2 separate regions of the Homo sapiens genome follow, and region 2 is linked to region 1. Evidence: fine-mapped expression QTL. A gene starts in region 1. The other region holds a variant in brackets. All regions are shown on one strand. Distances are between the middles of the regions.

Evidence for each region. PIP is the estimated chance that this variant, and not a neighbour inherited with it, causes the effect. A credible set is the group of variants that fine-mapping cannot tell apart.
Region 2: its variant is the best candidate, but not a certain one, in a credible set for the expression of PACS2 in whole blood (TOPMed, PIP 0.57).

What each region holds. Positions count from the first base shown.
Region 1 is chr14:105,306,656-105,323,123 of GRCh38, forward strand. PACS2 (phosphofurin acidic cluster sorting protein 2) reads left to right here and starts at 8,093. Exons shown (of 25, transcript NM_001100913.3): 1 at 8,093-8,382. The coding sequence starts at 8,264. It also overlaps a transcript of BRF1 not described here and the pseudogene LOC124903409. RefSeq lists silencers at 5,454-5,614, 7,455-7,544, 7,645-8,174, 8,315-8,404, 8,635-8,714 and enhancers at 8,459-9,110, 16,265-16,468.
Region 2 is chr14:105,285,193-105,294,333 of GRCh38, forward strand. BRF1 (BRF1 general transcription factor IIIB subunit) reads right to left here. Exons shown (of 18, transcript NM_001519.4): 2 at 1,104-1,184. Among named protein-coding and RNA genes, the nearest start is that of BRF1, 11 kb to the right of the region's middle. RefSeq lists enhancers at 731-1,629, 7,881-8,030, 8,181-8,300, 8,941-9,070. The variant T/C (reference allele first, on the strand shown) is at 5,863.

The sequences.
Region 1 (16,468 bases):
AGTGCAATGGCACGATCTTGATGTACCGCAATCTCTACCTCCCGGGTTCAAGCAATTCTCCTGCCTCAGCCTCCCAAGTAGCTAGGATTACAGGCACCTGCCACTGCGCCCAGCTAATTTTTGTATTTTTAGTAGAGTCAGGGTTCCATCATGTTGGCCAGGCTCGTCTTGAATTCCTGACCTCAAATGATCCATCTGCCTTGGCCTCCCAAAGTGCTGGGATTACAGGCGTGAGCCACCGTGCCAAGCCCCATCGTGTTCTCATCTGTGGTGCTTTGACATCTTGGGGTCTCGTGGACCTAGAGAGGGACTCCCCTCCCAGGGTTAGCTAATTCCTAGAGACAGCTGACCACTTGCCTCTGAGTATGCCTTATTTACTTTATTTTTTCTTTTTTTCTTTTTTTTTTGAGGCAGGGTCTCACTCTGTCACCCAGGCTGGAGTGCAGTGGTATGATCATAGCTCACTGTCGTCTCAAACTGCTGGGCTCAAGAGATCCTTTGGCCCCAGCCTCCCAAAGTACTGAGATCCCAGGCTTGAGCCACCGTGCAGGCTGAGCATACCTTTGATATGCAGAGCAACCATCATGAGTCCCACCTGCCTCCTTTCATCAGGCTCCTGCATTCCTGAACACTAGCCCCCTGCCCTAAATCACCCCAAGGCCAGGTACCAGCTAGCTAGATACCACCCCCAAGCCCAGAGCCCACTGAAATGACCCAGTTCTAATTCTGCTCAGCTTGCCTCCTCTGCCTTGCCTGGAAAATGGCAATAAAGGCTCTTGCCCACCCTTTCCCTTCACCCCCTCCCTGTCCTGACTGGCCCTGGGTGCTTCCCCACGTGCCCCTCCTCCTGGGAACTGTGAGTAATAAACTCCTCTTTCAAAGGCGGTTGTCTCTGTGTCTGTCATCTTATCACATTTGATCAAAATAACTCCTGGGTACTCAATAGCCCTGTCCCCCCATGCAGCAGTCAGCAGGGGAAATGAGAAAGCAAGCTTCTATGGCCTTCTCACCTTCTCACCTGCTGCCTGGCCTTGGGCAAGTGCTTCAATCTCTCTAGGTTTCTACTTCCTCATCTGCATAACAGGGATAAGAATAGCCCACCCTAGCACTGCGGAGTATGATGGAGGACATGTGTCTGGTAGACAGACTGCTCAGAAGGCAAGTCCCTGTTCCTGTCTGTTCTCCGCAACTCGAGTGAGACTTGGTGAGGCTCCAGTCCACCTTCCACCACAGAAGTCAAGGGCCAGGCCAGGACAGTGGCTCACGCCTGTCATCCCAGCACTTTGGGAGGCAGAGGTGGGAGGATAGCTTGAGCCCAGGAGTTCGAGACCAGCCTGGGCAACAAAGTGAGATCCCTGTCTCTACAAAAAATTTAAAAATTAGCTGTGCGTGGTGGTGCGTGCCTCTAGTTCAGCTACTTGGGAGGCTGAGGCAGGAGAATCGCTTGAACCCAGGTGACTGAGGCTGCAGTGAGTTATGATCACACCACAGCACTCCAGCCTGGACCATAGAGTGAGACTCTGTCCCCCCCAAAAAAACAATTAGGCCGGGCACAGTGGCTCACACCTGTTATCCCAGCACTTTGGGAGGCTGAGGTGAGAGGATTGATTGAGCCCAGGTGTTTGAGACCAGCCTGGGAAATATGGCAAAACAGCATCTCTAACAAAAATACAAAAATTAGCCAGGTGTGGTGGTACATGCCTGTGGTCCCAGCTACTCGGGAGGCTGAAGAGGGAGGATTGCCTGAGCCCAGGAGACAGAAGTTGCAGTGAGCTGAGATGGCACCATTGTACTCCAGCCTGGGCACGACAGAGGCAGATTCTGTCTTTTTTTTTTTTTTTTTTTGAGATGGAGTCTTGCTCTGTCGTCCGGGCTGGAGTGCAGTGGTGCAATCTTGGCTCACTGCAACCTCCGCCTCCTGGGTTCAAGTGATTCTCCTGCCTCAGCCTTCTGAGTAGCTGGGATTACAGGTATGAGCCACTGTGCCCAGCTAAGTTTTGCAGTTTTAGTAGAGACAGGGTTTCACCATGTTGGCCAGGCTGGTCTGGAACTCCTGACTTCATGATCCGCCTGCCTCAGCCCCCCAAAGTGCTGGGATTACAGGCATGAGCCACTGTGCCCAGCCATGACTTTGTCTCTAAATAAATAAATAATTTTTTAAAACCCTTAGGGACCCAGCACAGTGGTTCACACTTGTAATCCCAGCACTTTGAGAGGCTGAGGCAGGAGGATGGTTTGAGTCCAGGAGATCTGGCCTACAGTGAGCCATGATGGCACCACTGCACTCCAGCCTGGTTGACAGAGCAAGACCCTGTCAAGAAAACAAAAGAAAAAAAAAGAAAAAGACAAACAAAACCTAACAAAACCAGAAATCCATCCTGCACGAAGAGCACTGAGGTTGAGTGTTGGTTGACACGTGTTGCGGTAATTGCTGTTCTGATGTCTGTGAATGTCCTTGGCTGATTTCTGTATTAGGGCCTGGGTGTTTTCCTTTCTTTTCTAATATTTAAGTTATGTCCTGGCTTATTGTGATGATATTCTATTGTGGGAAAGAAAGAAGTGTTAAAATTTATGCATCAAGGTCCCTCTTAATCTTGGGGCTCAGGATAACCACAGTCAAGAGGGGAGAGTTTTATTCCTGAATCCAGGTCATGCTGTGTTCAACTTTACACCCTGATTTGTCACACAATCACATATCTGAGAATTTCCCCATGTTGCTAAAACTGAGGCAGCGTTCCGTTTTGCTGGTTATTCCACATCCCATGGGGTGGATGTGCCAGGGCAAGTTTTGTCATTTCCCCTGGACTGGACATTCCTTTCTGTAGGTGTTGCTGTTTGAAATATCTCACACACCTGGACCTGTGTCCCTGTTGACATTTCCAGTGTCACCTGCAGGATGCCATGGGATACCCATGAGCCCAGGCAAATCTCCCAAGACGCTGCCAAGCCACTCTGCAGAGCTGCTCTGGGTCCTGCCCCAGGTGCTGTGTGAGGGAGCTGCGCTGCCTGCGCCCAACCCAGGAGGGGAGCAGCGTGCAGGACACCGAGGATGTCATCACGACCTTAGGTCTGTATTAGGTCTAGATTAGCCTGCATTAAGGAGAAGGTGGTGATGTGTGTCTTTTTTTTTTTTTTTTTTTTTTTTTTTTAGACGGAGTCTCACTCTCTTGCCCAGGCAGGAGTGCAGTGGCACAATCTCGGCTCACTGCAAGCTCCGCCTCCTGGATTCAAGCAATTCTCCTGTCTCAGCCTCCCGACTAGCTGGGACTACAGGCGCCCGCCACCACACCCGACTAATTTTTGTATTTTTAGTAGAGACGGGGTTTCAGTGTATTGGTCAGGCTAGTTTTGAACTCCTGACCTGGAGATCCACCCGCCTCGGCCTCCCAAAGTGCTGGGATTACAGGTATGAGCCACCGCACCCAGCCATGTGCATCTTTTTATAATTTACAATTCGTGATAGTAGTGACAACTGTCTCACTTATTCTTTTGTGAATCTTTTGTAGCTTCTCTAACCATTTTCCACTGGGAATTTTTTAGTGGTCTTATGGACTTGTATGATTTCCTTTGATATTAAGAATGTTACCCTAGTGAGCCAGGCACAGTGGCTCACGCCTGTAATCCCAGCACTTTGGGAGGTCGAGGCGGGCGGATCATGAGGTCAGGAGATCAAGACCATCCTGGCTAACACGGTGAAACCCCGTCTCTAATAAAAATACAAAAAATTAGCCAGGCGTGGTGGCAGGCGCCTGTAGTCCCCCCTACTCAGGAGGCTGAGGCAGGAGAATGGCATGAACCCGGGAGGCAGAGCTTGCAGTGAGCTGAGATGGCACCACTGCACTCCAGCCTGGGCGACAGACAGAGCGAGACTCTGTCTCAAAAAAAAAAAAAAAAAAAAAAGAATGTTACCCTAGTGAAACATTCAGTATTCTTACAAAGATCATCCTCAATAGTTTGTTGCGTTGGGTGAGGGTTCCCTTTGCACGTTTGGTTTTTTCAGGACGGGGCGCAGCCCCAGCCAGATGGCGCCCGGCTCTCCAGCCAGCGGCAGCTCACCCTGCTGTGGTTTGATTTTCCCTACACAATTAATACATGTTCATCATGGAGAAAATAGGAGATAAAGATAAGCAAAAAGGAGAAACCAAATCAATGGAATCCCCATCACACAGAGATACTTTCTTAACACTTTGGATTAATTTGTATCCTATCAATATTTTTCTATACCTGAAAATAGGTGTTTTATATGTATAATCACTAACATGTAAATACATACTGCACATGGACATGCATTTTCACATACATTTTTGTTTTCTTGAGACAGAGTTTCACTCTTGTCACCCAGGCTGGAGTGCAGTGGCACAATCTTGGCTCAATGGAACCTCTGCCTGCTGGGTTCAAGCGATTCTCCTGCCTCAGCCTCCCGAGTAGCTGGGATTACAGGCGCGCACCATCATGCCCCACTAATTTTTTGTATTTTTAGTAGAGATGGGGTTTCACTATGTTGGCCAGGATGGTCACAAACTCCTGACCTCAGGTGATCCACCCACTTCGGCCTCCCAAAGTGCTAAGATTACAGGCATGAGCCACTGTGCCCGGCCTTTTTATTTTTATTTTTTGAGATGGAGCCTGGCTCTGTCCCCCAGACTGGAGTGCAGTGGTGTGATCCTGGTTCACTGCAACCTCCACCTCCTGGGTTCAAGTGATTCTCCCACCTCAGCTTCCCAAGTCACTGGGATCACAGATGCGCACCACCATGCCCAGGTACGTTTTTGTATTTTTGTTAGAGATGGGACTTTGCCATATTGCCCAAGCTGGTCTTGAACTCCTGAGGTCACGGGATCTGTGCGCTTTGGCCTCCCAAAGTGCTGGGATTACAGGTGTGAGCCCCTGCGACTGGCCTGTTTTTAGCTACTTTTAACTCACTATTTCTGCCAGCTGTAGAATATTCTATCAGGTTCTATCATGGCTCACCTAACCCTGTTCTACTCTACAACCCCGGGGTTGATTCCAGGCCTCACTCTCAGCAGTTGAGCTGCTCTAAGGGTGACCGTGGGAACTGTCCACAGGTGCGGCTGCGGGTGCAGCGATCTCAGCGGTCTTAGAGCTCTTGGCCATCCCCCACATGGCTTCCCAGAAAATGCCTCCAGGAGGAGGGCCCTGCTGTACCTTTTTTGTGACCATTCCTCCTCAGCCTCAGTCATGGCCATGTGCTCCAACCATGGGAGTGGATGCGGCAGGGCCTGTCTAGGGGTTCGGCAGTTCTGTCCCTCTGCCATAGCATGGGCTGGGCAGGGACCTGGCCACGTGGGGCTGCTTCCTCAGCCCAGCTCCTGGCAGGAGAAGGAGTAGGGGCGCTGTGGGCTGGAGCCGCCAACTGACCAGTGCTGGCCCTGGAGGAGGCCCCTCCCCCACTCCCCGACTTCAGCAGGGCCTGCTGTGTGTCTGTGTCATCTTAGCCCAGGCTGAGGAGATGAATGCGTTTCCAAGCAGCCCATGGTCCTGGCGCCCGACTGGAAAAGCCTGAGCCTTCACCCTAGGTGGAGGGACCTAGCGAAGCCAGGCGGACAGAGGAAAGGCCTCGGCCCATCCTGTCCCATGACTGGGGGTTGGGGCTTCGTCTTTTTAATACCAATGGAATCCTAGCCAAGCATTCAGAACCTTGAAGCTTTAACTTCTTAAATAATAATAACTCCCACAACCTCCGGGGACCCCGGGCAGCACGTGGTAGGACCAGCTTTCAGGTTGTCCTCCTGAGACCCCAGGGCTCTGAAGGATCCTCTTCTTGGACCTCCTCCCCAACCGTGCCCAGCCACCCCAGTCATCCGAGAGGTTTGTCTCAAACCAAGTTCCTGCTTTAAAGAAAACGCTACCAGAGAAAGCACCTGTGCTCCAAACACGGGGGTGAGGGCTCACACCATGCCAGGGTCATAGCATGGGGAGGGATGCCTCCCAGCCTTCAGGGGATCTCCTCCTGTGACCCACAGCCCTCAAGAGAAGGACCAGCACAGCATCATTTTCCGACAGAGGAGGGCAGTGCAAATAACAAGTTCTGGCTAAAAAGTTACTCTGATCACCCAAGGGACATCTGTGCACTTGGAAAATACAGAAGACCACAGTCCCATCACCACCATCCCACCTTAAAAACAAACATAAACGTGGTCGCAGGCGTGACACATGGTGTGTTTCGTGTCCCTGCTTTCCTGCCTGGCAGAAGCATTGATGTAGACCCACCATACGGGTTCTTCGGGCCACTCTGGTACAGACTGTGTGGGTCATATCCCGACCCCTGGCAGCTGCATAACCTCACAGGCCGCCATCTCCTCTTTTGTCACTTGGGATGGGACAGAACTGTCACGTCCCTTAAGGGCTCACAACGGTGCCTGGCACAGAGGAGGGGCACCGCTCAATGGTGGCAGCTGGTGCCAAGCCCTGCTGTGCACGGCTTAGTCACCCCGCATCTCCTCACTTGACCCCCAGTTGTAGTCCCTGCCTGGGTTAGACGCTGGCATACACAGGCACCATGTGTCAGGCGGCCCATCCGTCTGACTGCAACTGCACGCTCGCCAGGTCCAGCAGCGCCGTACGCTCAGTTCTGGGGTCAATGGGTGCCTGTCTCCTGCCCTCCCATCACAGACAGCCTGTCCTCCTGGGGTATGGCTACCCCCTCTCTGGACATAGTCACTTCTCCCCCTACCCTGTCTCAAAGGTATGAGATCCACCGGCCCTCTGCCCGCCGAGCAGCTGGCCAAGGTCAGACAGACCCTCATGGCTCTCAGTGTACCACCTTAGAGGAGCCAGGGGCGCGTGGGAAACACAGAGTCCCTTGTTCTCTCCGAAGTGGGACCCTGACTTTAAGCAGTCGCAGCTGTTTGCAGTTCTAGATACAGGAGTTACAGCTGGAGGCTGAGCTCTCTCAACGGAGGAAGCAGCGGCATGAGGGCCTTTGCAGAAGGAGCTGACGGGGCACTGGGGTGGCAAGCCCCGTGGGCCAGGAAAGAAACCAGCTCCAGGTCAATTTGCTCGGGCTGGATTTGTTTCAGTAAAACTACTTGTAGACAAGACACAGGGCGAAGAGAAAAGCAACTGTAAACTAACTGTGAAACAAGGAAACAGAAGAGAGGCCAGAAAACCGTTTCCTAAATCTCGGCTTGGCATCTGGTGCTGGACCACAGCCGCTGCCAAACAGATGGGGGAAGCACCCTCCCTGAGCCCCAGAGCCTACACGTCGGGCCCCAGCGGCTCTAGCCATTGCCTCCTCTTTGCTTGGGTCCCCAAGTTCACTGTTAACCCCAGGGCCAGGAGCCAGCCTTGGCCCCAGACATTTGTTCTCCATTGTCCTGAGCACAACGCTGAAAAGCGGCGCTGAATAAGGATGCTGGGACGCAAAGAGGGCGCCCGGGGTCATCTGGAGCCCTGGAGGCTAAGCTCGGCAGCCTGGCGCCCCGAGTGGCTTCGAGTCCCCGCGACCGCCGCCAGGCCCGGCCACCTCCTTGCCACCTCCCTGCGTCCCGGGGAACCCACGCAGGGGGGCGCGAGGGAGGGGCTCGGGGACGGGCGGGGCCCGCACAGCCGGGCCAACCCAGCGGGGGTCGGCAGGAGACAAGGGGCGGCGAGGGCAGGGGGGCGGGGAGACTCGGGGCATGGCGGGGTGGAGGCGGGAAAGTGTCGAGGCCGGGGAATCCGCGCGTGGGGAGGTGGGCATCGCCAGGGCGACGATGAGCTTTCCTTAGGGGGCGGCGCCTGAAGCTGGCCGGGACCCGGTGGACCCCCACGACTCTCCCGGCCCTTGCCCGCGGCTCCCGGGGGGCGGGGCGGGGCGCCCCGGGCGGGGTCTGTGCGCAGGCGCGTGAGTGCGCGCTCTCGCGCACCGGCGGGCGGGGACGCCCCGTGAGGCGCCGCCGGAGGAAGCGCGCGCGCACCTCACTTCCGGCGCGCGCTGCGCCGGCGGCGATTGGACCCGAGGCGGCGAGCTGGCGCCCCGCCCAGCCAATCGGCGGCGCCGGCGCGGGTCGGAGGGCGCCGGGCGCGCGCGGGGCGGCCGGGGGCGCGCGGGGCGCGGGCGGGGCGCCGGGCGGGGCGGGGCGGAGCGGCCGCAGCTCGTCGCCGCCCGCGGGCCTGTCCGACGCCGGGGCCCGGCCCGTCCCCTCCGCCGCCCGGCAGCCATGTGACCGCGCCGCCGCCCTCCGCGCGCCCGGCCCGCCCGCCGCGCGTCCGCGGCCCGGCCGCAGCCCCAGGCCGCCGAGGGAGCGGCGGGGCCGGCGCCATGGCCGAGCGAGGCCGCCTCGGCCTCCCCGGCGCGCCCGGCGCGCTCAACACGCCCGTGCCCATGAACCTGTTCGCCACCTGGGAGGTGGACGGCTCCAGCCCCAGCTGCGTGCCCAGGTACGCGCCGCCCGCCGCGCTTTGTTCCCGCCGGGCACCTGCTGGGGGTGTCCTGGCCGCGGCCTCTGCGCGCCCCATCCCCGGCCCGGGTCCCCCAGCGGAGCCCAGGTCGCCCCCCGCGCCCCCGCCCGCCGGTTCGACGCGTGCAGCCGCCGCCCCCCCGCAGCTCCGGCAAGCGCGGCCCCAGCCCCCCAGGTCCCGAGCACCGGGGGCCGCGCTCAGCTTCCGAGGACCCGGTGCTGCTCAGACCCGGCGGGACCTTGGGGCTCCCGGGCGGCGCTCACCTGGCTCGCCGCAACCGCACCTGCACACCTGCCTCAATGCGGTGCCGGCCGGGGTGACGAGGGTGCTTCCTCTCTCGGGTACCACACGCTTCCTTTCGCGTTCGGCGACACTGTCAGACCTCGGCCTGGGAGCGACCCCCGGCGCACGGGGCGCGCAGGACTCGGTTGTATCCTCCGTCCAGCGCGCGGTGGAGATGCCCTGTCCTGCGGGGCGGGGTCGTCCTCGCGGGTACCTGGTTGGCGCTGTCTCTCATTTAGAGGCGTCGCCAAGCCAGTACTGCTATTTGCGCCTCCCAGTTGATCTTGCCATTGCGGAAGACTGGCTGTTCTGCACTTGGTAGGGGGGCGCCCGGTCGCCCAGCGGTAACGATTGGACAGGGTTTACCCTCCGGCCATAGCCCAGCCTTCCTTGGACTTGCAGCTTCCCTGAGTCTCCTGCTCAGTTTGAAACTTTTGTAATTTCTTCGTGACTTGGTAGTTCCTGCTCAGGAAGCTCCCAGGCTAAGGAGGAGAGAGACACGCTCTCCGGAAAAGTTCTGGTTCTAGAATAGACAGCAGGCGAGAAGAGGAGGCGGTTGGGGGTAGTGAGAGTTCTCCCTGGGGAGATGGGAGGGTGAGCGGACCTTCCAGGCACTGGAAGTGGCCAGTATGCCTGGAGGGGACCCCACGTGGCATTGAGTTGTTCCACCCCTAGTCAGCTGCAGGTGGGCCTCTCCGTGCTTTCCTGTGGCTCCCACAGCCTGCATCTCTGAGCGTGGTGTTGGAGTTGCAGAGCCGCTGGACAGTGGGGCTTGCCCTCCTGGAGCGCAGGGTTGGGACCTCGGGGCTTTGGTTTTGCTGAGTGGACAGGAAGGATGCCCACCCGGCACGACTCTTGCACCTGGCGGGGCCTCCCGAAGGACCCAGTGTCCATATGAGACCTAAGGGTCAGCATTTGCCCAAGGTCTGGGGCCGAGCACTGCAGATGTGCCTGCTTGCCTCTCTTCTGGGAAGTCTCTGGGGCCTCAAAGCCAAAGCCAGGAGCATCTCCCCAGGCCTGGCTGCTTCTCCATTCCAGGTCTTGGCGATTGCCCCAATGTCAGGTCCCACAGCCCCACAGCCCTTCTCCTGTCTGCCCCTCTGAGTCACTGCCTCACCCACAGCCCCAGAACCTTCATGCGGGCTGTTGGCGCTCCCCTGCTCCAGCACTGCAGCACATAGCCTGCCCTTGCTGAACCTCTGCAGCAGCTTCCTGGGGCCCTCCGAATGAGCAGCAAAGTCTTTAACCCAAGGGAGGTGGGGGCGTGTGGCAGGAGGGGCCGGGGGCCTTATCAGCCCCCCTGTGGAGCTGTGCTCTATTCTCCAGGGGTCTAGAAAGCCCACTCTGGTGTCTGTGGGGAGGGTATGGGTAGGGCGGGTTTCGAGAAGCCTGGTTAGGACAGGCGGGGGTAGATGGGGGCACCTGGGCTGGGTAGCACTAAGTGCTGGGGGGGGTCCCGAGCTCTGGCCTGGACAGGGTTGGGAGGAAGGGTAGGCAGGAGGACAGGATTTGTTCTGTTGGTGTGGAGTTAATGGGCGGAGGAGTTAATGGGCGGAGGGGCGAGTGGCGCAGCTGACCAGGTGGGCAGATGCAGTTTGTTCGTAGGACATGCTCAGCCTCATAATGAGCTCCTGCCCTTACCTGTCCTGGAACAGGGCCCCTCATAGGCGGGCTTGCCCCTAGCTTTGCTTTGTGCTTGTGCCGCCTGTCCGTGCATCCTCGGACAGTCTGCTACTTAGTTTTGCTTTGTTCCTCCTGAGTTCTTCTGTACTCCTCACTTTTGCCCAGCCATGAAGCTTCTGGGCTGCGTGTGTGCTGATGCCTTTCGGCGTGTTCACTGCTGCGTACTATTCACTGGCGTGACAGTACCTCGGCTTTGCTTCTGTCAAGGGACCTTGGCTTGTTTCCAGTTTTTTGGTTAATTACAAGCCCCGTGCTGCTGTGGACATCGTGTGCCAGTCTTCTGCGTGTGTCTTTCTGGATGGGCAGGGCCTGTCTTAAGCATGTACCGCCAGCTACCAGGATTTATGGTGGGGGTGTGCACGCACTCAGCGTTACTGCTGGGCAGTTTTCCAGAGTGGTTGTGCCTGCTCCGGCCCCCACTGACAGGGACGAGAGTCCCCACTGCTCCACATTTGTGCCAACACTCATTTGACTTAATTTTTGCCAGTCTGGTGGGTGTGAAGTGGTATCGTGGTTTTAACTTGAATTTCTCTGATTACTAATTTAGGCCATTTGTACTTCCTTGTCAGTGAAATTCCTGTTCCTTTGCCAGTTTTTTTTTCTCTTTTTTTCTGCTTGAGTTTCAGCAGTTTCTTTAGAGATAGTCATCCTTTCTCGGCTGTGTTGAGGATGTCCCCGTCCAGTTATGAGCGAGTCTTTGCTCTCTGAGCAGCCTCTGGGTGCACTCCCCGTGTCAGCCTGGTGGAGTGTGCACATTGACTGTTTGCCAGGCTGGGGTGCTGGTCTCGTTTCGGTTCTCCTTCTGGGAGGCAGCCGGAGAAGTCTGCCCCCGGGAGCTTGAACTGGGCATGCTGGGCTGTTGTTGGGGAGGCCTGTGCTCCGGGTTTCCTTGCGACGCTTTTGGCTCAGCACTGTTACACACGGTGCTCCTAGGTGGTCCACGGGGTATGCGTCAGTGCCTGTCTGTGGCCTCTGCCTCCTGGGTTCCCAGAGTGTCCTCCTGGTGCCCATGTCCCTGAGCGCCCCCACCTGCTCTTCAGCAAGGGCTGGGCTGCTTTGTACCTTGCCCTTCCCACTTGATTGTTTTTTCGGTTGATGTTTATTAATTTGTTTTTATTTATGTATTTTGTTGTTGTTGTTGCAGAGACAGGGTCTCCCTATGTTGCCCAGACTGGTCTTGAACTCCTGGGCTCAAGTGATCCTCTCACCTCGGCCTCCCGAAGTGCTGAGATTACAGGTATGAGCCCCTGGGCCTGGCCATCTGTTTGGTTTTTAGAGACAGAGCCTCACTTTGTGGCCCAGACTGGGGTGCAGTGGCTTGATCATGGCTCATTGTAACCCCTAAAACCTGGGCTCAAGCAGTCCTCCCACATCAGCTTCCTGAGCAGCTGGGACTACAGGTGTACACCACCATGTCTGTCTAATTTTTTTGTTTTGTTTTGTTTTTTTGAGACAGAGTCTCACTCTGTCACCAGGCTGGAGTGCAGTGGTGCAATCTCGGCTCACTGCAACCTCCGCCTCCCTGTTTCGATTTTCCTGCCTCAGCCTCCCAAGTAGCTAGGACTACAGGCGCCTGCCAGCATGCCCGGCTAATTTTTGTATTTTTATTTTATTTATTTATTTATTTATTTTTATTTTATTTTATTTTATTTTGAGATGGAGTCTCGCTCTGTCACCCAGGCTGGAGTGCAGTGGTGCTGTCTCGGCTCACTGCAAGCTCCGCCTCCTGGGTTCACACCATTCTCCTGCCTCAGCCTCCCGAGTAGCTGGGACTACAGGCGCCCGCCACCACGCCCGGCTAATTTTTTTTATATTTTTAGTAGAGATGGGGTTTCACCGTGTTAGCCAGGATGGTCTCAATTTTCTGACCTCGTGATCCGCCCGCCTCAGCCTCCCAAAGTGTTGGGATTACAGGCGTGAGCCACCACGCCCTGCCTATTTTATTTTTTTGAGAAGCTCTGTCGCCCAGGCTGGAGTGCAGTGGCACGATCTCAGCTCACTACAACCTCCACTTCCCGGGTTCAAGCAATTCTCCTGCCTCAGCCTCCTGAGTAGTTGGGACTACAGGCGTGCACCACCACGCCCAGCTAATTTCTGTATTTTTAGTAGAGACAGGGTTTCACCATGTTGGCCAGGATGGTCTCGATCTCTTGACCTCGTGATCCGCCCGCCTTGGCCTCTGAAAGTGCTGGGATTACAGGCGTGAGCCACCACGCCCAGCCAGAATTATCTTTTTAAGTTTCACACAAAGCCACATTTGGTTTATAATTGGAAGTTCTTTAACTCTGTAGAGCAGGTTGGGGAGAATTGACGTTTGTGTGGTACTGAGTCTTCTCATTCATGATCAAGCTATTTACTTAGGTCTTGAATGTATTTTGAGAGTTTTACAAGATTCTGCTGTCATGCATATCCTTTGTTACATTTATTCCTAGATGCTTGTATTTTAGAAGTCATAGTAAAAGTCAGCTTTTTATTATGTTTGTTGCTAACATATAGAAATTCAGTTGATTTTTCAAAGAAATCAGTGATTTTACTATTTTTAACCTAGTAACTTATCTATAGATTATTTTGTATTTTCAAAATGTATGTTTTGTCTTTTGCAAAAGACAAAGTTGTTTCTTTTCAATCCTCATACTTTTCTTTCTTTCTCTTGCCTGACTGTGCCAGTTGTCATAGTACAGTGTTGAATATGGTTGGTTGCGTGGATTACCCGTGTTCTGTCTTGACCTTAAGGAAGGTTTCCAGTGTTTTACCTTTAAGGACGATGTTTGCTGCAACTTTTTGTGGATAGCCTTTATGCACTTAAAAAGTCTCATCCTATTCATGACTTGCAAAGGCTTTTTAAAGAAATCATTATGAGTGGATGTTGAATATAATCAAGTACTTTCATTAAGAGGATTATATAATTTTTATCTTTTCATTACTATTGTGGTAAATTACATAAATTGATTTTATTTCTTTTCTTTTCTTTTTGAGACAGAGTCTCGCTCTGTTACCAGGCTGGAGTGCAGTGGCGTGATCTCAGCTCACTGCAACCTCTGCCTCCCAGGTTCAAGCAATTCCCCTGCCTCAGCCTCCCAAGTAGCTGGGACTACAGGTGTGCACCACCACGCCCAGCGAATTTTTGTATTTTTAGTAGAGACGGGGTTTCACCGTGTTGGCCAGGAGGGTCTCGATCTCCTGACCTTGTTATCCGTCCACCTCAGCCTCCCAAAGTGCTGGGATTACAGGCGTGAGCCACCATGCCTGGCCGTAAATTGATTTTCTAACATTAACCTATTCCTGGAAAAATACTAGTTTAAGCATGTTGTATTACCCTTTTTAAAAATTGGTGGATATATATTTATTTATGTATTTATTTTTTGAGACAGGGTCTTGCTCTTTTGCCTAGGCTGGAGTGCAGTGGTGTGACCATGGCTCAAGCAATCCTCCTGCCTCAGCCTCCTGAGTAGCTGAGACTACAGGTGCATGCCACTGGCCTGGCTAATTTTAAATTTTTTGTAGAGATGGGGTCTCACTATGTTGCTCAGGCTGGTCTCCAACTCCTGGCCTCAAGTGATCCTCTCACCTTGGCCTCTCAAAGAGCTGGGACTCCAGGTGTGAGCCTCCCTACCTGCCCACATTGGTGGGTTTAGATGATAGTATCTTGTTTAGGACTTCTGCATGTGTGTCTGGGGTCTATGTGCTTCCTTTCTTCTGTAGTCCTTAGCAGATTTTGGCGCTAAGATTTCCTTGTGAAATGAAATGAGTACTGCCTCTTTTGCTGTATCGTGGTATAGCTTATGTAAAATTGGAATCATTTCTTCCTTGAATGTTTGGGATAATTCACTTATAAAATAACCTGACTGGCCGGGCCTGGTGGTTCACACCTGTAATCCCAGCACTTTGGGAGGCTGAGGTGGGTGGATTACCGGAGGTTAGGAGTTCGAGACCAGCCTGGGCAACGTAGTGAAATCCCATCTCTACTAAACATACAAAAATTAGCCAGGCGTGGTGGCACGCACCTGTAATTCCAGCTACTCAGGAGGCTGAAGCAGGAGAATCACTTGAACTTGGGAGGCGGAGGTTGCAGTGAGCCCAGATGGCGCCACTGCAAAAACATTTTTTTTTGAACCTGCTTTCTGGGTCAGTGTGTCAATTTTAATGCACGTTCTGTTTATACTTAAAAGGAATGTGTGTTTGGCAGTTGATGGTGCAGTGTTTGTCTATTAGATCAAGCTTGGTTTACTGTGGTCTTCAAGTCCGTTCCCTTTTTTTGTCTACTAGAAATGTATGTTAAAATCTTATAATCTGAGAATAGATTGGTCCGGGTTTTCTAACAGTTCTGTCAGTTTCTGTTTGATACTTTTTTTTTTTCCAGACAGGATCTCACTCTGTCACCTAGGCTGGAGTGTAGTGGGACGATCACAGCTCACTGTAGCCTTGAACTCCCAGGCTTAATCGATCCTCCCACCTCAGCTTCCCGAGTAGCTGGGACTACAGGTGTGCACCACCACACCTGGCTAAATTTTGTATTTTTTGTAGAGACTGGGTTTTTCCATGTTGCTCGGGCTGATCTTGAATTCTTGGGCTCAAGCAGTCTACCTGCCTCAGCCTCCCAAAGTGCTGGGATTATAGGCATGAACCACTAACGCCCCGTCACTTAATATATTTTTGAGGCTATGTTATTAGGTACATACATGTTTAGAATTGTAATTCTAGGTATTTTGAACTTTTCTCATTGTATGACTGCTTTTATATCTAGTAATGCTTTTTGTCTTTAGTATTGACTTTGATGCAAGCATTCTTTTGGATAATTTTTGCCTGTTAGCTATTTTTCTATCCTTTTTAAAAACCTTTGTATATCCTTACATATTAGATGTGTCTTTGGTTATTCAGCATGTATCTAGATTTCATTTTCATTCACTCTGACCTTTTCTGACTTTTTTTTTTTTGAGACAGAGTCTCGCTGTGTCGCCAGGCTGGAGTACAGTCGTGCAATCTTGGCTCACTGCAACCTCTCCTCCCGGGTTCAAGCGATTCTCCTGCCTCAGCCTCCCGAGTAGCTGGGACTACAGGCGCCTGCCACCACGCCCAGTTAATTTTTGTATTTTTAGTAGAGACGGGGTTTCACCATGTTGGCCAGGCTGGTCTCGAACTCTCGACCTCGTGATCCGCCCGCCTTGGCCTCCCAAAGTGCTGGGATTACAGGCTGAGCCTCTGTGCCCGGCCTTTTTTTATTTTTATTTTTTATTTTTTGAGACGGAGTCTCTCTCTTTTGAGATGGAGTCTTGCTCTGTTGCCCAGGGTGGAATGCAGTGGCGCAATCTTGGCTCACTGCAACCTCCACCTCCCAGGTCAAGTGATTCTTGTGCCTCAGCCTCCCGAGTAGCTGGAACTACAGGTGCGCGCCACCGCACCCGGCTCATTTTTTTGTATTTTTAGTAGAGACGGGGTTTCACCATGTTGGCCAGACTGGTCTCGAACTCCTGACCTCAAATGATCTGCCCGCCTCGGCCTCCCAAAGTGCTGGGATTACAGGCATAAGCCACCACGCCCAGCCTACCCTGTACATTTTAATGTGCATAGTTAATTGTATCTTTACTCTCCTGCTGAACTATGCAGGGACCTTAGCCCACTTTATTCTAATCCAACCCTTTCATGTTTATATTTATATGATTTTGTTACTGTGTATCTTAATTGTTTTCTTGTGAAGCCCACAAGATGTTGTTACTGCTTTATACTGTGATATTTGATGAGCTTCAAAACTCACCACTTCCTTTGTTGCTCATTCTTCTTGCATGTCAGGAATCATTTTCCTTCTTCTGTTGAATATTTGTTCTTAGGATTTCCTTTAGTGAGGATCTGCTGATAACTACCTTCTCTTTCTGTTTGTCTGAAGATGTTTTAGTTTACCCTCACCCTGAGCAGGGCGTGTGCTGGTTGTACGATGCTGGGGTGGTGTGTGCTCCTCCCACAGGTCCAGGCAGGGCGTCCCTGGCTTTGACTTCCAGCTTTGCTGTAAGAGGTCAGCGGCCGTGACAGGCTGGAGGGAGACGTCTGGGTGGCTTTGTGGTCATGTCATCGTTGCCAACGGTCGTCTCATGGTGGGTCCTGGTGT
Region 2 (9,141 bases), 25 kb before region 1:
ACTTCAAACAGGCAGCATAACACTTTTGAAAGAGAGCAGTTAGAGGACTCACAGTTCCTGATTTCAAAACTGACTGCGAAGCTTCAGTGTCCTGAACAGCGTGGAACGGGCACCAGGACTGTCATGCAGTCACTAAGCCAAACTGAGGATCCAGAAATGAGCTTTTAGGTTTACGGTCAATCGATTTTCAGCAAGGGCACCAAGAGGATGCCAACTGGCAAAATACAGTGTTTTCAACACATGGTCCTGAGAAAACTGGGTCTGCACGTGCAGGAGTGAAGGCAGGCCCTTACCTTACATCACATGCAAACGCTGACTCAATATGGACCAAAACCTACTGGAAAGAGAGGAAGGCGCAAAACTCCAAAAAATCATAAGCACAAATCTTCACGATTTGGACTGGATTAGGCAACATTTGTTAGTTATGATACCAAAAGCACAGCCATCAAGAGACTAAATAGGTAAACTGGATACTATCAGAATTTAAAACTTTCATGCTCCAAAGGATACCAGCGAAAAATAAAAAGACAAAAGAAAATGAAAAGAACGCATGAAATGGCTGAAAATGTCCTATAAATCACACATCCGATAAAAGACTTGTACCTAAAACACATAAAATCACACATCCGATAAACGACTTGCACCTAAAATATATAAAATCACACATCCGATAAAAGACTTGTACCTAAAACACATAAAGAACTTTTTCAACTCAATCATAAGACAAATAACCCAGCAGACATTTCTCCAGTTTGTGGTGAACTGGCACTTTGACAAAACGCAGTGAGAATGTCACTACAATATCCAACTGCTATAAATGTGTTATTTCTGCCTCCATCTCACTGAGGCCATCAAGCAATGGCTGTGGATCCTGTGGGATCCACTGGGTTCTCCCCAAACAGCCCTGGCAGAGTCTGCAGGACACCCAGGAGGGGACTCAGGGCACAATTCCTCCTGGAAAGCAGCCTGGGCTGGGCGTGCAGGGTGACGAGGAAGTGGCAGGCCATGAGGTCCATGGCTGAGTCAGTGCCCTCCACCCTAGCACCACCATCCCCATCTCTGGGACCCGCCGCACGCTCAGCAGCATCCGCGGTGGGAAATACCATTCTGCAGGGTCTGCGCTCTCGACTCCTTCCCCAGATTCACGTGGAAGCCGCCACCCAGAGTCGGGGTTTTGCCAGCACCTGGAAACACAAAAAAAGACAGATCAGCCAAAACTTGGAGATCTGCATTTACAACCCTTTCCTAACATCCACAGACACAAAGTGAGAACAAAGCGGGGGTCAGCACTCATGGGGGAAGCAGCAGGTCGGCCCCCCGCACCTCCGTCACTGAGCCAGGAACCCCAGTGGGGGAAGCATCTCTCACTCTGCCCAGCCAGCAGGGTTGAGGGTGGGCCAACTGCACTTTCCGCATTTTCTTTTTTTTTTTGAGACGGAGTCTCCCTCTGTTGCCCAGGCTGGAGTGCAGTGGTCCCATCTCCACTCACTGCAAGCTCCGCCTCCTGGGTTCACGCCATTCTCCTGCCTCAGCCTTCCAAGTAGCTGGGACTATAGGTGCCCGCCACCACGCCCGGCTGGGATTACAGGCACTTTCTGCATTTTCTAACCATGTCCCTAACACACTGCAAGTCCAGAGTGGACGCTGTCAAATGGCTGCCGGGCGAGAACACAGATGTACCTCCAAACCTCTGCAAGTGGTGCACACACAGCATGGGCTGGCCGTCCCCCTTGCCCCAGGCCAGCCCACTCAGATATCACTCCTGCATGGTGACCACATGTGAACACATCCACCTCCCTGCTGGACTGCAGGGGACGCAGGTACCATCCCATGTGCCCCAAGGCACTGCAACCAGCCAGTCTGCAGAAGGCCCCCACGCCTCAGTCCACCCACCCATGGGGAGGCTGCAGCTGAACCTGCTGGACACTCTACTCCGAAGCTCTGCCAACTGACAGCATGCCTACGACGTCCACCACATTCTGCCCTGCAGGGCTTCGGGGTTAAGACCTGGCCCTGGTACCTCTGGAAACATCAGGTGGACATTTGGATTGTTCACCAGGTTCACCAGCCCGATCGCTGCAGCCTGATCTCCCAATGAGCATGGTGGACATGTGGATTGTTCACCAGGTTCACCAACCCAAACGCTGCGGCCTGATCTTCCAACGAGAACAGTAAGGTGAGGCCCCAGGCATGCCCAAAGATGGGGAGAGCTGGAAAGTGCCCCCCGCCCCGCAGCGTCGGCCCTCAGTGGTTGGCACAGGGGCCAGTGCATTTGTGACAAAGCACAGACACAGGACTGGAGGCTGCTGCAATCGGGACGCGCAGACAACCTTGGCCACTTGGGGGAAGGCAAGTGTGTAGGGCCTGTCGGAGGACACTGGAAGGATAGGATGCAGAAGCAGAAAGCCAATCGCTGGAGCCTGGGGCCAGGCCCTCCAGGGAAACCATGAGGCAGGGACCTCAGCGTCATCCAGGGGCAGCCACCAGCACAGACAAGGCAGAACAGGCACGGCCTCTGGCTTCACAATGAATGTAACTGAATCCCAAACAAATACTAACAACACTCTTTAAAGACTCCAGTAAAATGATTCTAAAGTTCAGTTGGAAGCAAAAAGGAATTAGAGCAGCCAAGAAAAGTTTTGAAGAGAGCAAGGGGCAGCTACTGGGCCCGTCCGGAAACTCAGAGCTGAACAGGGTCAGGTGGCACTCAGCTTTTCCTGGTGGCAGCAGAGGCAAAGCCCGGGCCTCCTTCAGGCTGAGGCCCAGAGCCGGCCTCCTGGTGGGTAACGTGGCCACAGGGGTGGCCGGCAGCAGCAGCAGGGCACCAGCACTGAGCACAGGCCTCCAACAAAGGTGGTGCCGGGACGGGGGCAGTGCCTGGAGACTACCTAGGTTGTCACAACTGGGATCTATGTACTAGTTTTCTGTGGCTGCCATAAAAATTGCCACAAACCTAGTGGCTTTCAAGAAGCTGTAGAAGGTCCGGGCGCGGTGGCTCACGCTTGTAATCCCGGCACTTTGGGAGGCCGAGGTGGGTGGATCACGAGGTCAGGAGATCGAGACCATCTTGGCGAACATGGTGAAACTCTGTCTCTACTAAAAATACAAAATTAGCCAGGCGTGGTGGCGGGTGCCTGTGATCCCAGCTACTCAGGAGGCTGAGGCAGGAGAATCGCTTGAACCCAGGAGGTGGAGGTTGCAGTGAGCAGAGATGGTGCCACTGCACTCCAGCCTGGGTGACAGAGCAAGACTCCGTCTCAAAAAAATAAAAATAAAAATAAAAATAAAATAAAGTAAAAAAGAAGCTGGAGTGGTGGCCGGGCATGGTGGCTCACACCTGTGGTCCCAACACTTTGGGAGGCCGGAGCAGGAAGATCGCCCAACCCAGGAGTTCAATACCAGCCTGGGCAACACGGGGAGACCCATTTCTTTCTTTCTTTCTTTCTTTTTTTTTTTTTTGAAACAGAGTTTCGCTCTGTCACCCAGGCTGGAGTGCAGTGGCGTGATCTTGGCTCACTGCAAGCTCTGCCTCCTGGGTTCATGCCATTCTCCTGCCTCAGCCTCCCGAGTAGCTGGGACTACAGGTGCCTGCAACCACGCCCGGCTAATTTTTTGTGTTTTTAGTAGAGACGGGGTTTCACTGTGTTAGCCAGGATGGGGGGAGACCCATTTCTACAAAAAAAAACTGAAAAAAATTAGCTGGGTGTGGTGGCACCTGCTTGTGGTCCTACTACTCAGGAGGCTGAGGTTGGAGGATCACTAGAGCCCGGGAGGTCGAGGCTGCAATGAGCTGAGATCGTGCCACTGCACTCCAGCCTGGGTGACAGAGCAAGACCCTGTCTCAAAAAAAAAAAAAAAAAGAAGCTAGAACAGGCCAGGCATAGTGGCTCACATCTGTAATCACAGCACTTTGAGAGGCTGAGGCAGGAAGACTGCTTGAGCCCAGGAGTTCAAGACCAGCCTGGACAACATAGCAAGATCCCATCTCTACAAAAAAAAAATGAGCGGGGTATGGTAGGGCATGCCTGTGGTCCCAGCTACTCAGGTGGCTGAGGCAGGCAGATCGTTTGAGTCCAGAAGGTGGAGGCTGCAGTGAGCTGTGATGCACCTCTGCACTCCAGCCTGAGCAACACGGTGAGAACCTGTCTGAACAAATAATAAACTAAACAGAAGCTGGAGCAGGTCGCAGTGGTGTCTCCTTGTGGGGGCTGGAGAGGACCTGGCAGGGCCACAGTGAGGTGCCTGCTGATATGAGAATCCAGAAGAGAGGCCAGGGAGAAACGCAGGACTCAGGAGAGACCCATCCTGGAATAAGGGGGCTTTGAGCAGCACTGATGAGCCAATTCTAAATTCTGCAGAAATCTGGCCCAGGCCTCCCCAGGCTGAGCTCCAGGTGCCTGCAACTCCGACCCTCCCTCAGAGTTCTTTGTTTTGTGAGCAGTGTGTATTCTTTTTTTTTTTGAGACGGAGTCTCGCTCTATCGCCCAGGCTGGAGTGTAGTGGTGCGATCTCGGCTCACTGCAACCTCCGCCTCCCGGATTCAAGCAATTCTCCTGCTTCAGCCTCCTGAGTAGCTGGAACTACAGGTGCGTGCCACCACGCCCAGCTGATTTTTGTATTTTTACTAGAGATGAGGTTTCACCACGTTGGCCAGGCTGGCCTTGAATTCCCGACCTCAAGTGATCCACCCACCTCGGCCTCCCAAAGTGCTGGGATTACAGGCGTGAGCCACCACGCCCCGCCTGTTTTTTCTAAGCGTTCGAATTAAGATCACCATTCTGTGTAGCCCCTGGCATGCTGGTCTCCAGCACATGCTCCCTCACCAACTTTCACTTTAGAAAAAGAAAAATCTCACTATATTCTAATTAGTGTATATAATGCTTTTAATAAATAACTCATATAACACTACATTAGAAAAAGGACAATGATCAAAGTATAAAAAGCCAGCTGGGTGCAGTGGCTCACGCCTATAACCCCAGCACTTTGGGAGGCCGATGCGGTTGGATCACCTGAGGTTGGGAGTTCGAGACCAGCCTAACCAACAAGGAGAAACCCCGTGTCTACTAAAAATATGAAATTACCCAGGCATGGTGGCACATGCCTGTAATCCCAGCTACTCAGGAGGCTGAAGCGGGAGAATCACTTGAACCTGGGAGGCAGAGGTTGTGGTGAGCCGAGATCGCGCCATTGCACTCCAGCCTGGGCAACAAGAGCGAAACTCCATCTCAAAAACAAATAAATAAAAAGCCCCTGAAGCCCCACCTTCCAAGAACAGGGGACGCCGTACAGCCTCCATTATAGCCACGTTTCCCTGCCTAGGTACAGTGGGCTGCAGGCGTGCTTCTGACAGAACAGGGCCACAGTGAGATGCCACGTTAAATTACAGTGATGATTTCGATTCTGGTTGTGTTTTACGCAATCTCTTCACTCCTTGACCCATACCCATCAGCTTGCACCACAGCACACTGCAAAGCTGCATGCGTCAGCAGCTCCACGCTCCACCTGCCACCTCTGCCCTCCCTCCTCCATCACTCTGTCTTGCACCCTCCAGCCTCCCATACCCTCCTCACACCCCAGGACCTCTGTTTCCTGTCCCTGTGTTGTTCTCCCTGTCCCCCAACACCACAGTCACCCTCCCTGGGGCCACGCTGCTGCACCTGCTCTGGAAGCGCCTCCTGGCTTCTGCTTGCCTCACACCCTGGTGCGTGCACACTTGCAGGCACACACACACAGGACACATGTGGACAGTGTGAAACCTCAGAACACTAACCCACAGGGAGGATGAAAGAGGAAAGTGCCACCTCTGGCTGAAACTGCCAGGATGCCCTCTACTTCTAAAAACATTTGGTATTTTCCATAGCG[T/C]GTTTCTATAACAAAAAATATGTGCTAGTTCCCGTTAGCTGGAACTGACATGTGGAAGGGGCCAGGTCTTGTGGGGCCTGGCCAAGACTGCCCCCCTGTGTACAGCAAGGGAGGACCTGCGGTTCCACCAGAGCCAGAGCAGGGCCAGAGGCCGCAGGGGCACCTCTGAGCTCCGACAAAGCCAGCAACACCCCATACCGCCGAACAGACAGAAAGGCGGGCCAGGGGCCCTCCATGTCCTGAAAGACCCAGCACAGCACTGTCCATTTCACACCAGGATTCTTCCAACATGAGAAAGCAATAACCTTTAATATTCACGTGCTCATTCAACTTAACTGGGGGCGGGCTCAGTGGCTCATGACAGTAATCTCGGCATTTTGGGAGGCCGATGTGGGTGGGTCACTTGAGGTCAGAAGTTCAAGACCAGCCTGGCCAACAGGGCGAAACCCCGTCTCTACTAAAACATACAAAAAAAAAATTAGCCAGGCATGGTGGTGTGCTCCTGTAGTCCCAGCTACTCGGGAGGCTGAGGCAGGAGAACTGCTTGAACCCAGGAGATGGAGGTTGCAGTGAGCCAAGACTCTGTCAAAAAAAAATTTTTTTTTAACTGGAGACTTTCTGTTGCTGCTGTGAAACTTCCTTTTTTTAAGAGACAGGGTCTGGCCGGGCGTGGTGGCTCACGCCTGTAATCCCAGCACCTTCGGAGGCCAAGGCGGGTGGATCACCTGAGGTCAGGAGTTTGAGACCAGCCTGGCCAACATGGCGAAACCCCGTCTCTACTAAAAACACAAAAATTAGCCGGGCATGGTGGCACATGCCTGTAATACCAGCTACTTGGGAGGCTGAGGCAGGAAAATCGCTTGAACCCGGGAGGCGGAGGCTGCAGTGAGATGAGATTGCGCCATTGCACTCCAGCCTGGGCAACAAGAGAGACACTCCATCTCAAAAAGAAAAAAAAAGAAGTCTCACTCTGTCACCCAGGCTAAAGCGCAGGGGCACCATCACGGCTCACTGCAGCCTCAACCTCTCGGACTCAAGGAATCCTCCCACCTCAGCCTCCCAAATAGGCGGGACCACAGACATGCGCCACCACGCCTAGCTAATGTTTTCTTATTTTTTGTTTTCTTTGTTTGTTTTTTTGAAGACAAGACAGAGTTTCGCTCCTGTCGCCCAGGCTGGAGTGTAATGGCACGATCTTGGCTCACTGCAACCTCCACCTCCCGGGTTCAAGCGATTCTCATGCCTCAGTCTCCCAAGTAGCTGGGATTACAGGCGCCCACCACCATGCCCAGCTAATTTTTGTATTTTGGGGTTTTTTCTTGTTTTGTTTTTTTAGTTTTTGTAGAGACAGTTTCACTATGTTGCCCACGCTGGTCTCAAACTCTTGACCTCAAGTGATCCTCCCACCTTGGTTTCCCAAAATCCTGGGATTACAAGCATGAGCTACCAAACCTGACTGGAAACTTCTTTTAAGGGGAGACACCTGTAGGAGGCCTGGCTGGCTGGGCAGTAATGGATGGAGAGGAATTCAGGGGTCCCACAGGTGAGTGCCCAAAGGAGGCTGGACCAGACCGCAGTGCATCCCTGAGAGCTGGGGACGGGGACCCGGGAACACAGAGCGTGTGCCTACTGGTGGGGCTGGATGCAGTAGCATCAGACATCTGGGAGGAGCACTGACAAACAGGGCCAAGCACGGCAGCCCACACCCCTTCCCAGGCGCAGACCCTTCCCATGCGCACACCCCTTCCCAGGCACAGACCCTTCCCAGGAGCAACCCTTTCCCAGGCCCACACCCCTTCCCCAGGCCCACATCCCCTCCCCAGGTCCAGACCCCTTCCCAAGCCCAGGCCCCTTCCCCAGGCCACTGCGGAGGAGCTGGTTTTGTAGTGATTACAATTTGGTTACGGAAAACAGGACGTGTGTCACGCTGCAGGCTAACCAGCAGCTTCCTCCCTCACCCAGATGGCAACGGGACAGAATTCACCCGTTTCCTAAGAGCAGGCACCTTCAGCCACAACTTAGGGTTCTGGGGGTCATGGAGCAGAGGCAGAAGCCTGGAGCCTTCCACCCTCAGGACTAGAGCCCCGCCAGGAGGCCAGGCGCATGCTCAGAACCCCAGGCCGCAGGGAGAGGCTGGCCGGTCACATCCTTCTCTGAGGCAGAGGGAGCTTCCCAGCAGGCGAGGGCAACTCCACCACCCATGTCCCCCTCCAGGGCCAGCGCCAGGTGACATGCAGCCATGTCACAAATTAGGTCCGGCTGCATCGTGACCCCAAACGGAAAACAGCAGCACTCACGGACACCCCAGCTTCGAAGTTCTAACTGTGAAGCCACTGAAAGTTGTGATTACGGGAAACGCTCCCCACCCCCACAAGTTCTGGTGACACTGAGGTGTGCTGCTCCTTGCACAGGACGAGGAGGGACCCCTGCAAGCAGGAGCCCAGGATGTCTGGTGTGTGGGCGCCATCACCATCACCTGCTGGCAGAGGGAAGCCTCAGGGCACACACAGTGCAGGACACTGATGTGGGCTCACAGGGAAGCCCCGCCTTGCCTCAGTGGAGCAGACGGCCTCCTCAGGGCACTGCCAACGGCCCCCAACTCCACCGTCTGCCTGGCCCCTCCAGCCACGCTGAGCCTCAGTCCTCACCCACCCTTCTCTCTGCACAGTCTCTGCTCGGGTGCCCCGGGACGCTGGAGCACCAGTGTGGTTTCCCCCGTGGGGCCTGGCTTCCAAGGTCAGGACCCTCTGGGGACTCTCCTGAGGCCTCTGGTCACCTGCCCTGATGCCTTAGTTAAATATTCCAGAGTAAACTGCGAAGCTGTATCAGGCTTAGTTCTCAATTAATAGGCAAAACACCTAGGAAAGACAGTGGCCTTGGGACTAGAAAACGACAGCTCAGAGAGAAAGCTCAGCTTTCAAGATGAAGCTGGAGGAAGGGGCGGCTGGGGCCTACTTGTGTGCCAGGGAAACTGAGAAGCCACCAAGGTTTCCAGCCCCCTGTGATCACCACTGTGACGAGGGAGGAAGGATGCCAAGTGGGCACCTAGAGAGCCTGCCTGGGAGACAGAGGGGCTGCCCAGAGCAACAGATCCCCTCTCTCCTCCCCACTCTCGGCCCAGGCACCACCTGCGCCGGTCCCCAGGGGCTAAGAACCCGCCGCCTCGCAGCACTTCCCCCAGGACCACCACAGTTGGTTGCTGGGCCTGCGCCTCCCTCCAGAGAGTGTGCCTGGGCTCAGAGGCGTCTTGGGGCCACCTGACAGCGCTGGCTCTGAGCT